Regions from separate parts of the Homo sapiens genome. Here region 2 is linked to region 1. The links come from fine-mapping of genetic effects on gene expression. Tissue or cell type: whole blood. Region 1 holds a variant in brackets; the other region holds the start of a gene. All regions are shown on one strand. Distances are from middle to middle.

Region 1 (7,250 bases):
GGTTTTTTTGAGACAGAGTCTTGCTCTGTTGCCCAGGCTAGAGTGCAGTGGTGCCATCTGGGCTCGCTGCAACCTCTGCCTCCTGGGTTCAAGCGATTCTCCTGCCTCAGCCTCCTAAGTAGCTGGGACTACAGGTGCACACCACCACGCCTAGCTAATTTTTATATTTTTATTAGAGATGGGGTTTCACCATGTTGGCCAGGCTGGTCTCGAACTCCTGACCTCGGGTGATGCACCACCCCGGCCTCCCAAAGTGCTGGGATTACAGGCCCGAGCCGCCGCACCTGGCCAGCCCTCTAACTCTCTAACTGCCTTTGTCTCAACCTATTATCTGCCAGCTTTGTATAAGGAATCCTGTGAGGCTTATCGGCTCAGTGGGAAAACTTCTGGAAACTTCACCATTGATCCTGATGGCAGTGGCCCCCTGAAGCCATTTGTAGTGTACTGTGATATCCGAGGTAAGTGTCTCTGTTGGGTGGTGAGGGGGTGAGGGGAGAACCAGGAAGGATAGAGTGGTGGGTGGGGGCCAGTTAGACTAAACAAGTGAGGGTAAAGGAGGACAGAGGGGAAGGGCATACTGAGGAATTTGTAACCTAGCCTTAAAAGTAAATCCCAAGCCAGGCGTGGTGGCTCACACCTGTAATCCCAGCACTTTGGGAAGCTACTCGGGAGGTTGAGGCAGGAGAATCACTTGAACCTGGGAGGTGGAGGTTGCAGTGAGCTGAGATAGCGCCATTGGACTCCAGCCTGGGCAACAGAGCGAGACTTCATCTCAAAAAAAAAAAAAAAAAAAGTATATCCCAGCTTCCTTACCCATTCCAGCTATCTTATTTCCAGCCTACAATGCAGAGTGCCCAGGGCAGAGGTGGAATGGAGCTGCTGGCCACGTTCAGTGGCTCTGAGTTGCAGCAGCGGTGGTGGAGGTGGGCAGGGAGATGGGTAGAGAATGCCCAACTCCAGCCAAAGCTCTGTCCCCTCTTGTCTGCCAGAGAACCGAGCGTGGACAGTTGTGCGGCATGACAGGCTGTGGACAACTCGAGTGACAGGTTCCAGCATGGAGCGGCCATTCCTGGGGGCTATCCAGTACTGGAATGCATCCTGGGAGGAAGTCAGTGCCCTTGCCAATGCTTCCCAGCATTGTGAACAGTGGATCGAGTTCTCCTGCTACAATTCCCGGCTGCTCAACACTGCAGGTTAGGGCTGGGGTCAGGGAGGTGGCGGAACTGGAGGAGACACCAATGGGGGCCTGGGAGAAGGAAGCCAGAGAGCCAGCTGGGGCCTTGGGTTGGAAGATTCAAGGAGGGGTCTGAACTCGCTGGAAGGGCGAGAGGAGCCCAGAGGCTAATGGAGGGACAGGGCCTGGAAGCTGCCTGCACCTCTTCCCCAGGAGGCTACCCCTACAGCTTTTGGATTGGCCGAAATGAGGAGCAGCACTTCTACTGGGGAGGCTCCCAGCCTGGGATCCAGCGCTGTGCCTGTGGTCTGGACCGGAGCTGTGTGGACCCTGCCTTGTACTGCAACTGTGACGCTGACCAGCCCCAGTGGTGAGGGGGCAAAGGGACAGGGTTTTTAGGACTCCGGGAGTGGGAGGAGCTGAGTGGCTGGGGCTGAGCCATGACATCCTGCCCCCACAGGAGAACTGACAAGGGACTGCTGACCTTTGTGGACCATCTGCCTGTCACTCAGGTAGTGATAGGGGATACGAACCGCTCCACTTCTGAGGCCCAGTTCTTCCTGAGGCCTCTGCGCTGCTATGGCGATCGTGAGTGGCAGTCCCCTTTTGTGTGCCCTCCCAGAGCTGACTCTCCAGTTTCCAAAATCTAGGCCGCATGTCACTGGTGGTCTCTAGCTGGGGTGCCCGACCCCCAGCTCCTGCTGTGATGCGATCTCATTACCCCTCTGCACCTGGCTCCTCTTTCATTCCACTCCTTAGTCTCCCCTCCGTCACCTCAAACCCTCCCCCTTTGCCCAACCTTCCCTGCCCCCAACCCCAGGTTCTCTTCCTCCTCCACCCTCCAATCTCCCTGACAAGACCTTCCTCCATCTGCTTTTCTAGGAAATTCCTGGAACACCATTTCCTTCCACACCGGGGCTGCACTACGCTTCCCCCCAATCCGTGCCAACCACAGCCTGGATGTCTCCTTCTACTTCAGGACCTCTGCTCCCTCGGGGGTCTTCCTAGAGAATATGGGGGGCCCTTACTGCCAGTGGCGCCGACCTTATGTGCGGGTGGAACTCAACAGTGAGCAGGCAGACTGTGGGAGGGCCTCGGGGTAGATGAAAGTGCTGTCTGGGGAGACAGGGGTAGGCTGGGGTTGGAGCCAAGGGCAGATGCCCTTTTGACAGGCAGCATGGGAAGGGTTGAGATACCCTATGTTCTAGCCCTCACTCGGTCTTGACGGCTGGCTGGGTGACCCTAGGCATTCACTTGGCCTCTCTTGGCCTTAAGCCCCTTCCTTGTGCCATAAGGAAGCTGGACCTTCGAGTCCCTCTCACCGCTGATTAGCCATGCTTCTAGCCTGGGAAGTGAGGCTGGGAAGCTGGCTTCAGGGATCTGTGATGTGGGGAGAGACAAAGGGTATGAGGTTTTTAAGCAGCTGGTAAGTTTCAATGCAAGCTACAGACAAATTGGAGGGATATTCAAGAAGCTCCAAAGAGGTGAGGGAAAGAGGTTATATTGGGCAAGGATCTATGAAGGGTCTTGTAGGTCTGAGTCCTTTTCTCCCCTACCCTGCATCACACTGTCCAGCATCCCGGGATGTGGTCTTCGCCTTTGATGTGGGGAATGGGGATGAGAACCTCACAGTACACTCAGACGACTTTGAGTTCAATGATGACGAGTGGCACCTGGTCCGGGCTGAAATCAACGTGAAGCAGGCCCGGCTCCGAGTGGATCACCGGCCCTGGGTTCTGCGGCCTATGCCACTGCAGACCTACATCTGGATGGAGTATGACCAGCCCCTCTATGTGGGTAAGCAGCAACCCAGAGGCAAGTCTGAAGCCTCCTTTACCTCCCCATCCTCCAAGGCCACTCGCCTTGTTTCCAGGAGCCTCCTGTCTTAGGTGCCAGTCCCCTCTGCTTCAGAGCAAGCCAGTGTCTCACTTGTCCCTCCAGGCCTTTGTATCCTATTCTATTCTTCCAGCCCTCTTGGCTCCCTTTCCAACTACAATACTTCATCCTGTCTCTGGCTCTGCCTCCATTTCTTTTCTTTTTTTTTTTTTTTTGAGACGGAGTCTCGCTCTGTCACCCAGGCTGGAGTGCAGTGGCACGATCTCGGCCCACTGCAAGCTCCGCCTCCTGGGTTCAAGCAGTTCTCCTGCCTCAGCCTCCCGAGTAGCTGGGACTACAGGCGCCCGCCACCGTGCCCAGCTAATTTTTTTTGTATTTTTTAGTAGAGACGGGGTTTCATCATGTTAGCCAGGATGGTCTCGATCTCCTGAGCTCGTGATTCGCCCGCCTCGGCCTCCCAAAGTGCTGGGATTACAGGCGTGAGCCACCGCGCCTGGCCCTGCCTCCATTTCTTGACCTGTTGCCTACCCTTCCCAGGATCTGCAGAGCTTAAGAGACGCCCCTTTGTGGGTTGCTTGAGGGCCATGCGTCTGAACGGAGTGACTCTGAACCTGGAGGGCCGTGCCAATGCCTCTGAGGGTACCTCACCCAACTGCACAGGCCACTGTGCCCACCCTCGGCTCCCCTGTTTCCATGGAGGCCGCTGCGTGGAGCGCTATAGCTACTACACGTGTGACTGTGACCTCACGGCTTTTGATGGGCCATACTGCAACCACGGTAAGTGCTGCTGGTTATGGGGCAACAGGGAGCCATAGGGTGTAATGGGATGTAGGGAGGGCAGGGAAGGAAATAGCATGTAAAGCCCATATCATGGAAAATTAGAGTTGTCCCTGGATTCCTGAGCTCTGAGTTTGGGGAGTTAGGCAGTTGAAGATCATGGGTGACTCCAAAGGCATGGACAAGGAAGGGATGGTACAGATAGCTGGTGCAAAAATATCTCAAAATCACCAAGTATGCTTTGGGAGCCCAAGGTGGGAGGATTGCTTGAGGCTAGGAGTTCGAGACCAGCCTGGGCAACATGGCAAGACCCTGTCTCTACAAAAAAAATTCTTTTTTTTTTTATGAGATGGAATCTCGCTCTGTCACCCAGGCTAGAGTACAGTGGCACGATCTCGGCTCACTGCAACCTCCGCCTGGTTCAAGCGATTCTTTTGCCTCAGCCTCCCGAGTAGCTAGGACTACAGATGTGCACCACCATGCCTGGCTAATTTTTGTATTTTTAGTGGAGATGGGGTTTCACCACATTGGCCAGGCTGGTCTCGAACTCTTGACCTTGTGATCTGCCTGCCTCAG[A/C]CTCCCAAAGTGCTGGGATTACAGGCGTGAGCCACCGCGTCTGGCCAAAATAATTTCTTTTTTCTTTTTTTTTTTTGAGACTGAGTTTCACTCTTGTTGCCCAGGCTGGAGTGTAATGACTCGATCTCGGCTCACTGCAACCTCCACCTCCCGGGCTGAAGCGATTCTCCTGCCTCAGCCTTCCAAGTAGCTGGGATTACAAGTGTGTGCCACCACACCCGGCTAATTTTTGTATTTTTAGTAGAGATGGGGTTTCACCACGCTTGCCAGGCTGGTCACGAACTTCTGACCGCAGGTGATCCACCCACCTTGGCCTCCCAAAGTGCTGGGATTACAGACGTGAGCCACAGCGCCTGGCAAAATTTTTTAATTAGCTGGGCATGGTGGTGCACACTTAGGCCTAGCTACTCGGGAGGCTGAGGTGGGAGGATCACTTGCACCTAGGAGGTCAAGGCTGCAGTGAGCTATGATCGTGCCACTGCACTCCAGCCTGGGGGGCACAGCAAGGACTGTGTCTACAAAAAAAAAAAAAGCAAATCGCTTCTCCATCTTCCCACCATCACCATGGTAACACAGGCGAACTCCCTTGTCAATGTATTTGATGATTGCTGCATTCCTAAAACATGTCAATGACCCAGTTCTTGGTTAAGGTGAGCCTTGACATTCCCCATAGCAAGATCCTACACACATGCCAAGACTGCATCCTCCCTAAGGCTGGCCTATAGGGAGGATATATGAGCAGGTGGGTTACTGGTGGGAGGAGTGTGGGGGACTAGGGAGATACAAGACTTAGGGACCAACAGATTTCTGGTGGTGGTTTGGAAGTGTGAGTAGTGGCACATATACTACATGGGGTCAGGATATCCCCATCACCCAGGCTGGAGTGCAGTGGCATGATCTTGGCTCACTGCAACCTCTGCCCCCTGGGCTCAAGCAATTCTCCTGCCTTGGCTTTCCTATAGTAGCTGGGATTACAGGCATGCACTACCACACCTAGCTAAGTTTTGTATTTTTAGTAGAGATGGGGTTTTGCCATGTTGGCCAGGCTGTTCTCGAACTCCTGACCTCAAGATGATCTGCCTGCCTTGGCCTCCCAAAGTGCTGGGATTACAGGTGTGAGCCACTGTGCCTGGCCTTACTGCGTGTCTTTAAGCAAGTCACTACTCATCTCTGAGCCTGTTTCCCCATTTGTAAAATGCAGGGGTTGGATCAGATGATCTCCAGTTTCCCATGGCTGTAAGATTCTGTTCTGTGACAGAGGGGCTCAAGGGGACCTAAAAGTAAATGGAGGGTTGTGAGGGTGGCAGAAACTGAAGTAAGTCTCAGGATGTGTGTATGGATGACATAAAACCTCTGAATTGGGGAGTGAGCAGTGTGGGGGCCCTAACCTCCCTGCTTCTACCTGCAGATATTGGTGGTTTCTTTGAGCCGGGCACCTGGATGCGCTATAACCTACAGTCAGCGCTGCGCTCTGCAGCCAGGGAGTTCTCCCACATGCTGAGCCGGCCAGTGCCAGGCTATGAGCCTGGCTACATCCCGGGCTATGATACTCCGGGCTATGTGCCTGGCTACCATGGCCCCGGGTACCGCCTGCCCGACTACCCCCGGCCTGGTCGGCCTGTGCCCGGTTACCGTGGGCCTGTCTACAACGTTACGGGAGAGGAGGTCTCCTTCAGCTTCAGCACCAGCTCCGCCCCTGCTGTCCTGCTCTACGTCAGTTCCTTTGTTCGTGACTACATGGCTGTGCTCATCAAGGATGATGGTAAGCTCTCCCGGGCTCTCTCACCCCACTCCAGCTTCACCCCGGTGCCCCTAATTCTCCTATTGATTCACAAATACAAGGACCCACGTGCTGTTAGAAGATAGGAGTCATGGGGCCTGAGACCCCAAATTTCTTCTCCCCACCCCACAGGGACCCTTCAGCTGCGATATCAGCTGGGCACCAGTCCCTACGTGTACCAGCTAACCACTCGACCAGTGACCGATGGCCAGCCCCATAGCATCAATATCACCCGTGTTTACCGGAACCTCTTCATCCAGGTATGCATAGAGGGAGGTGAGCCAGTTCAGATCATAACCTCATGGTCTCCGTTGTGGCATCCAGGAAAACATCAAATACTTAATATTTGTAGATCACATTTGAATGTATAGAGGATTTTCACGTGTGTCACCTCATGTAACCCTCACAATAGCTCCAAGGGGACAATAGGCATTTTTTTTTTTTTTTTGAGATGGAATTTTGCTCTTGTTGCCCAGGCTGGAGTGCAATGGTGTGATCTCAGCTCACTGCAACCTCTGCCTCCCGGGTTCAAGCAATTCTTCTGCCTCAGCCTCCCGAGCAGCTGAGATTACAGGCATGCGCCACAACGCCCAGCTAATTTTGTATTTTTAGTAGAGACAGGAGTTCTCCATGTTGGTCAGGCTGGTCTCGAACACCCGACCTCAGATGATCCGCCTACCTCAGCCTCCCAAAGTGCTGGGATTATAAGCGTGAGCCACCGCGCCCAGCCAGACAATAGGCATTCTTATTTAAGTGTTTTACAAATCAGTAAAGAGCCTCAGAAAGTAAAGCGGTTTCAGCTACTCAGGAGGGTGAGGCAGGAAAATTGCTTGAACCTGGGAGGTGGAGGTTGCAGTGAGCTGAGATCGTGCCACTGCACTCCAGGCCTAGGCGACAGAGTGAGACTCCATCTCAAAAAAATAAAGTGGTTTACCCAAAGTCAAACCGCTGGTAAGCTGCAAAGATGGGGCTTAAAACCAGGGTTTTAAAAAATATATAGGCCAGGTGCAGCGGCTCACACCTGTAATCCCAACACTTTGGGAGGCTGAAGTGGGAGGACTGCTTGAGGCCAGGAGTTTGAGACCAACCTGAGCAACATAGCAAGAC
Region 2 (5,000 bases), 51 kb after region 1:
CTCACTGCAACTTCCCACTCCCAAGTTCAAGCGATTCTCCCACCTCTGTCTCCCAAGAGCTAGAATTATAGGTGTCCGCCACCACGTCTGGCTAATTTTTTGTATTTTTAGTAGAGATGGGGTTTCACCATATTGGCCAGGCTGGTTTTGAACTCCCCGACCTCAGGTGATCCAACAGCCTCAGCCTCCCAAAGTGCTGGGCTTATAGGTGTAAGCCATCAGCCCAGCCTCTAGTGCTGTTTCAAAGGGCACTAATGTAACCATCATAATGAAGAAGTCATTTACACTTTAAGGAATTTTAAGCTGGGCCTTAGCATCAAGTTCCACGATTAGCATACAAGTACTCTGCCAGTTACTGACAATACTAGCATCCGGATCACCTGACTCCCAGTGCCAGAAATTTCCCCACTATTTATTCCACAAATATATGTTGAGCACCTACTATTATACTTAATAGTAGTATCTACTATGTGTTACCATTTTAGGTGTTTGGGGTACATCAATGAATAAAACATATATCCCTGCCTTTGGAGTTGATTCATTATGTTTGTGACACACAACAATAAGCATAAACCTTGACAATGATAGCATTATTACAGTTTTATAGATAGTCCTTTCTCCTATTATGTATGTGCGTTTTTAAGTACTTCTCTCTCCCTTTTTTTTTTCTTTTTTGAGATGGAGTCTTGCTCTGTCACCCATGCTGCAATGCAGTGGTGCATGTCGGCTCACTGCAACTTCCACCTCCCAGGTTCAAGCGATTCTCGTGCCTCAACCCCCTGAATAGCTGGGATTACAGGCACCCACCACCACGCCCAGCTAATTCTTGTATTTTTGTAGAGAAGGAGTTTCGCCATGTTGCCCAGGCAGCTCTCGGACTCTTGACCTCAAGTGATCCGCCTGCCTTGGCCTCCCAAAGTGCTGGGATTACAGGCCTGAGCCACTGTGCCAGGCCTCCTTTTTTTTTTTTTTTTTTTGACAGAATCTCACTCTGTTGCCCAGGTTGATGTGCAGTGGTGCAATCTCGGCTCACTGCAACCTCCACCTCCCGGTTCAAGCGATTCTAATGCCTCAGCCCTCCCGAGTAGCTGGGACTACAGGCGTGTGCCACCACACCTGATTAATTTTTGTATTTTTAGTAGAGATGGAGTTGTCCCATGTTGCCCAGGCTGGTCTCAAACTCCTGGGCTCGAGTGAACGGTCCACCTCAGCCTCCCAAAGTGTTGGGATTACAGGCATGAGCCACCGTGCCAGGCTTTTTTTTTTTTTCTTGAGACAGGGTCTCAGGTGCTGTCACCCAGACTGGAGTGCAGTGGCAGGATCAGAGCTCATTGCAACCTTGACCTCCCAGTCTCAAGCAATACTCCTGCTTCAGCCTCCCAAGCAGCTGGGACTATAGGAGAAGGCCACCACATCTGGCTATTTTTTTTTTGTAGAGATGAGGTCTCGCTATTGTTGCCTGAGCTGGTCCCAAACTCCTGGGCTCAAGCTATTCTCCTGCCTGGGCCTCCCGAATGCTGGGATTTCAGATATGAGCCACCGAGCCCAGTCTAAAGTACTTATCTCCTAACACACACTCTCTCCTATGTAAGTAATCTCTTTTATCAGTGGCATATCTGGGGATTCCAAGACTTAAAATAGACAAGCTTTCACAGAAACCTCTAATAGGGTTAGCACCTTCTCAGGCTGGAAACCTCCTTCAATATCAGTTTCCTAAATTTAAAAAACATGGGGTGTGGGAATTTTTTTATTCAGCGGCAGTATGGCAGCAAACGTGGAGGAGACTCGCGTTTTCATTGCCATCCTTGCACCCACCTAATTGTTAGTGTACCTGAGCTCCTTTGCTTTCATCCTCCCCTGCCAAGCGTCAGGTTCCTATCGGCCTGGGCTACATCACATACAACCCTGTATTTCACCCTCCATATTCCTTCACATTCCACGGGGGGCACTAACATCCTTCAGGTATCCCTTCCCTTCCCTGCTCAAGAAACAATTCCTCAGTAGTCACTTTTTATTGAAATAAAAGTTTGTCCCACATTTCCTAACAGGCATGTCCCAAATACAACACCTTGTCTGTGCTTCAAGGCACTTTTATTTATATCATTTGATCCTCGGTTGAATGGTGGGGGTGAGCGATCATTGGCGTGAGACCAAAAGTCTGGAGTGAAGGAGATTCTTGCTCAGGGCCAGGCCTGGGGTGAGGCGACCGAGGCACCCAGGACGCACGTGAGGAGGCGCTCACTGCACTTGCGCGACCCTGAGTCAGTGCTCCTTTACACTTTGTGCCTTGGGAGCCTTACTCACCTCACCCTAGTCCCGGCCTTGTTTTTACTGCTACCCCTCCTCAACATCCCCGAAAGCCATCGCAAGATCAGCCCCGGTCTCTAGCCCTCCCCAAGCACAGCTCCAGGTCCCCAGAGTCCACCTCGCTAAAGGCCCCCGCAGGTGCCACCGCCCTCCCGCGCCCTTTGGGCGCTGGGGCTCCCGCCCACCGGCCCACACCGCCATCCAACGGGATTCCCCGTCCCCGAGCCCGCCCCCGCCGCTCCTCCTCCCGGGCACACAGCCCTCGCAGCCCCAGACGCTGTCCTCGCCTGGGTCTCTCTCGCCCCGTCGCCCCCATTCCCCCACCCTCGGAATGAGGAGGGGCGCCTGCTACCCCCGGCCAGGCAGGCAGTGTGTCCCTCGGATTCCTTCCAATTTCCTGATCCCTCCGCCTCTCCCTCCCTCAGGCCCAGGGCGGCGAGGGGAGGAGGCCCGGCCCCACCGCCCGGCCCAGGCTTGTTTACTCACTCACCCTCCATCCCGAGCCGCGGGTCCCGCTGCTAGGACGCATGCGCGCCGCGGCCCCACCCCTGCGCCGTGCCCCGCCCCGCGCCTCCTGTCGGCGCGTGCGCATTGACTTACCCGTGCCGCGCGGACGCACTACTGTCATTTGCCGCCAAAACCCCGCACTCAGGAGTCCTGGCGGGTGCAGCCTCCCAGACGGCTTCCAAAGCGGCGCTGGCAGGGGAGGGGAAGGGCTCTGGGGAAACCTTCGCAGAGCCACTAATATCTTCCTGAAGACCCTATTCAGCGGATTTGCCATCCCCACGCGCTGGTGACAAGCCACATCTCACTTCAGCGTTTGAAGCCAACCCAGATCACCTTCATACCGATGCTTCACCCCTACCAGTTCTCCAGACACCGGTCTATGGGTTCTAAGCCCTTTATTTATGTCTGATCTCCCTATTTCTGTTCATAGTTTTCTAGTCACTTAGAATCAAAATTATAGCCTTGTATCGAAATAAATCCCCACAAGACACCTGCTAGTTACAAAGGGAAAAAAATAGCAACTTTACAGATAAGAATCTGTCAGACACCACCTTAACTAAGTGATCAAAGTTAGCATCACTAGTGATAAGAGGTATTGTTTTCTTCTTCTTTTTTTGCCGGGGGGCGAGGCTGGACGGAGTCTCGCTTTGTTACTTACACAGGCTGGAGTGCCGTGGCGCGATCTCGGCTCACTGCAACCTCTCCCTCCCGGGCTCAAGCAATTCTCCCGCCTCAGCCTCCCAAGTAGCCAGGAATACAGGTTCGTGCCACCACGCCCGGCTAATTTTTGTATTTTTAGTAGAGATGGGGTTTCACCGTATTGGCCAGGCTGCTGTCAAACTCCTGACCTCAAGTGATCTGCCTACCTCGGCCTCCCAAAGTGCTGAGATTACCGGCATGAGCCACCACGCCCGGCCTCCCTCTTCTTTTTAAGGAGACAGGGTCTTGCTGTGTTGCCTAGGCTGGTCTTGAACTCCAGGGTTCAAGCCATCCTCCCACCTTGATTTCCCAAAGTGTTGGGATTACAGGCATGAGCCATTGCCCCCAGCTGAGAGGTATTCTTACCAGGTCCCTCTGAACATGATGCAATGAGAAGCGCACAAAATCACTTCTGTGGTATTCTTGACGAACACGCATAAGCTGATTTTTTGTGCGTGTTGTTTGTTTGTTTGTTTTGAGACAGTTTCACTCTTGTTGCCTAGGCTGGAGTGCAATGGTGCAATCTCGGCTCACTGCAATCTCTGCCTCCTGGGTTCAAGCGATTCTCCTGCCTCAGCCTCCCAAGTAGCTGGGTTTACAGGCATGCACTACTATACCCGGCAAATTTTGTAATTTTAGTAGAGATGGGGTTTCACCATGTTGTCCAGGCTGGTCTCGAACTGCTGACTCAGGTGATCCCCCCACCTCTGCCTCCCAGTGCTGGGATTACAGGCATGAGCCACAATGCCCAGCCTGCATAAGCTGAATTTAATTATGAGGAAACATCAGACAAATCCAAAATGAGAGACAATCTACAAAATAACTGGCCAGTATCTTCAAGTGTCAAGATCATGAAAGACAAGGGGTGAGAAACCATCTCAGATTGGGAGACTGAGGAGATATGACAACTAAATGTAATGTGTGATCCTGGCTTGAATCCTGGTCCAGAAAAAGAACACCAGTGGGATAATTTGATGAAATTAGAATAAAATCTCTAGATTAATTAATAGTATTTTATCAATCTTATTCCTGGTTTTAATCATTGTAATTGAGGAAGTTTGATGGACATATAGGAACTCTACCATATTTGCAACTCTATTAAATCTGAAATTATTTCAAAATATAAATTTTTAAAATTACAAATTAAAATGCAAAATAATAACATCTTGATTTTGATTTTGTCTCAAAGTGTATAATTAGAAAAGCTTATAATGTTCATTTTTTCAAGTAATCTTCATAACAACTGTATGAAGTACGTAGGGCAACTTCAGTTTACACATCAGGTTATTCTGGCCTAAAGGAGTTAGAAGACTTGCCTTACACAGATGAATAATTCTGTCAGGTCTTAAACTCAGGTCGCTGGATTCCAACCAGATTTAGTGTTCTTTTCCTTATATAAAAACTTTGCTGTTTTTCCCTTGCCCCTATCCATTTAACTACCAAATCAAGGAAAATATTCCTTTATACTGGCATTCCTTTCTGTTCCC

What was found. PIP is the estimated chance that this variant, and not a neighbour inherited with it, causes the effect.
Region 2: EZH1 starts here. The variant in region 1 is fine-mapped to the expression of EZH1 in whole blood (TOPMed, PIP above 0.99).

The regions. Positions count from the first base shown.
Region 1 is chr17:42,689,750-42,696,999 of GRCh38, forward strand. CNTNAP1 (contactin associated protein 1) reads left to right here. Exons shown (of 24, transcript NM_003632.3): 12 at 339-458; 13 at 990-1,193; 14 at 1,388-1,544; 15 at 1,635-1,762; 16 at 2,057-2,242; 17 at 2,750-2,971; 18 at 3,548-3,787; 19 at 5,772-6,125; 20 at 6,276-6,403. Among named protein-coding and RNA genes, the nearest start is that of CNTNAP1, 11 kb to the left of the region's middle. RefSeq lists an enhancer at 1,152-1,651. The variant A/C (reference allele first, on the strand shown) is at 4,364.
Region 2 is chr17:42,742,214-42,747,213 of GRCh38, forward strand. EZH1 (enhancer of zeste 1 polycomb repressive complex 2 subunit) reads right to left here and starts at 2,827. Exons shown (of 21, transcript NM_001991.5): 1 at 2,798-2,827. RefSeq lists a silencer at 2,405-2,984.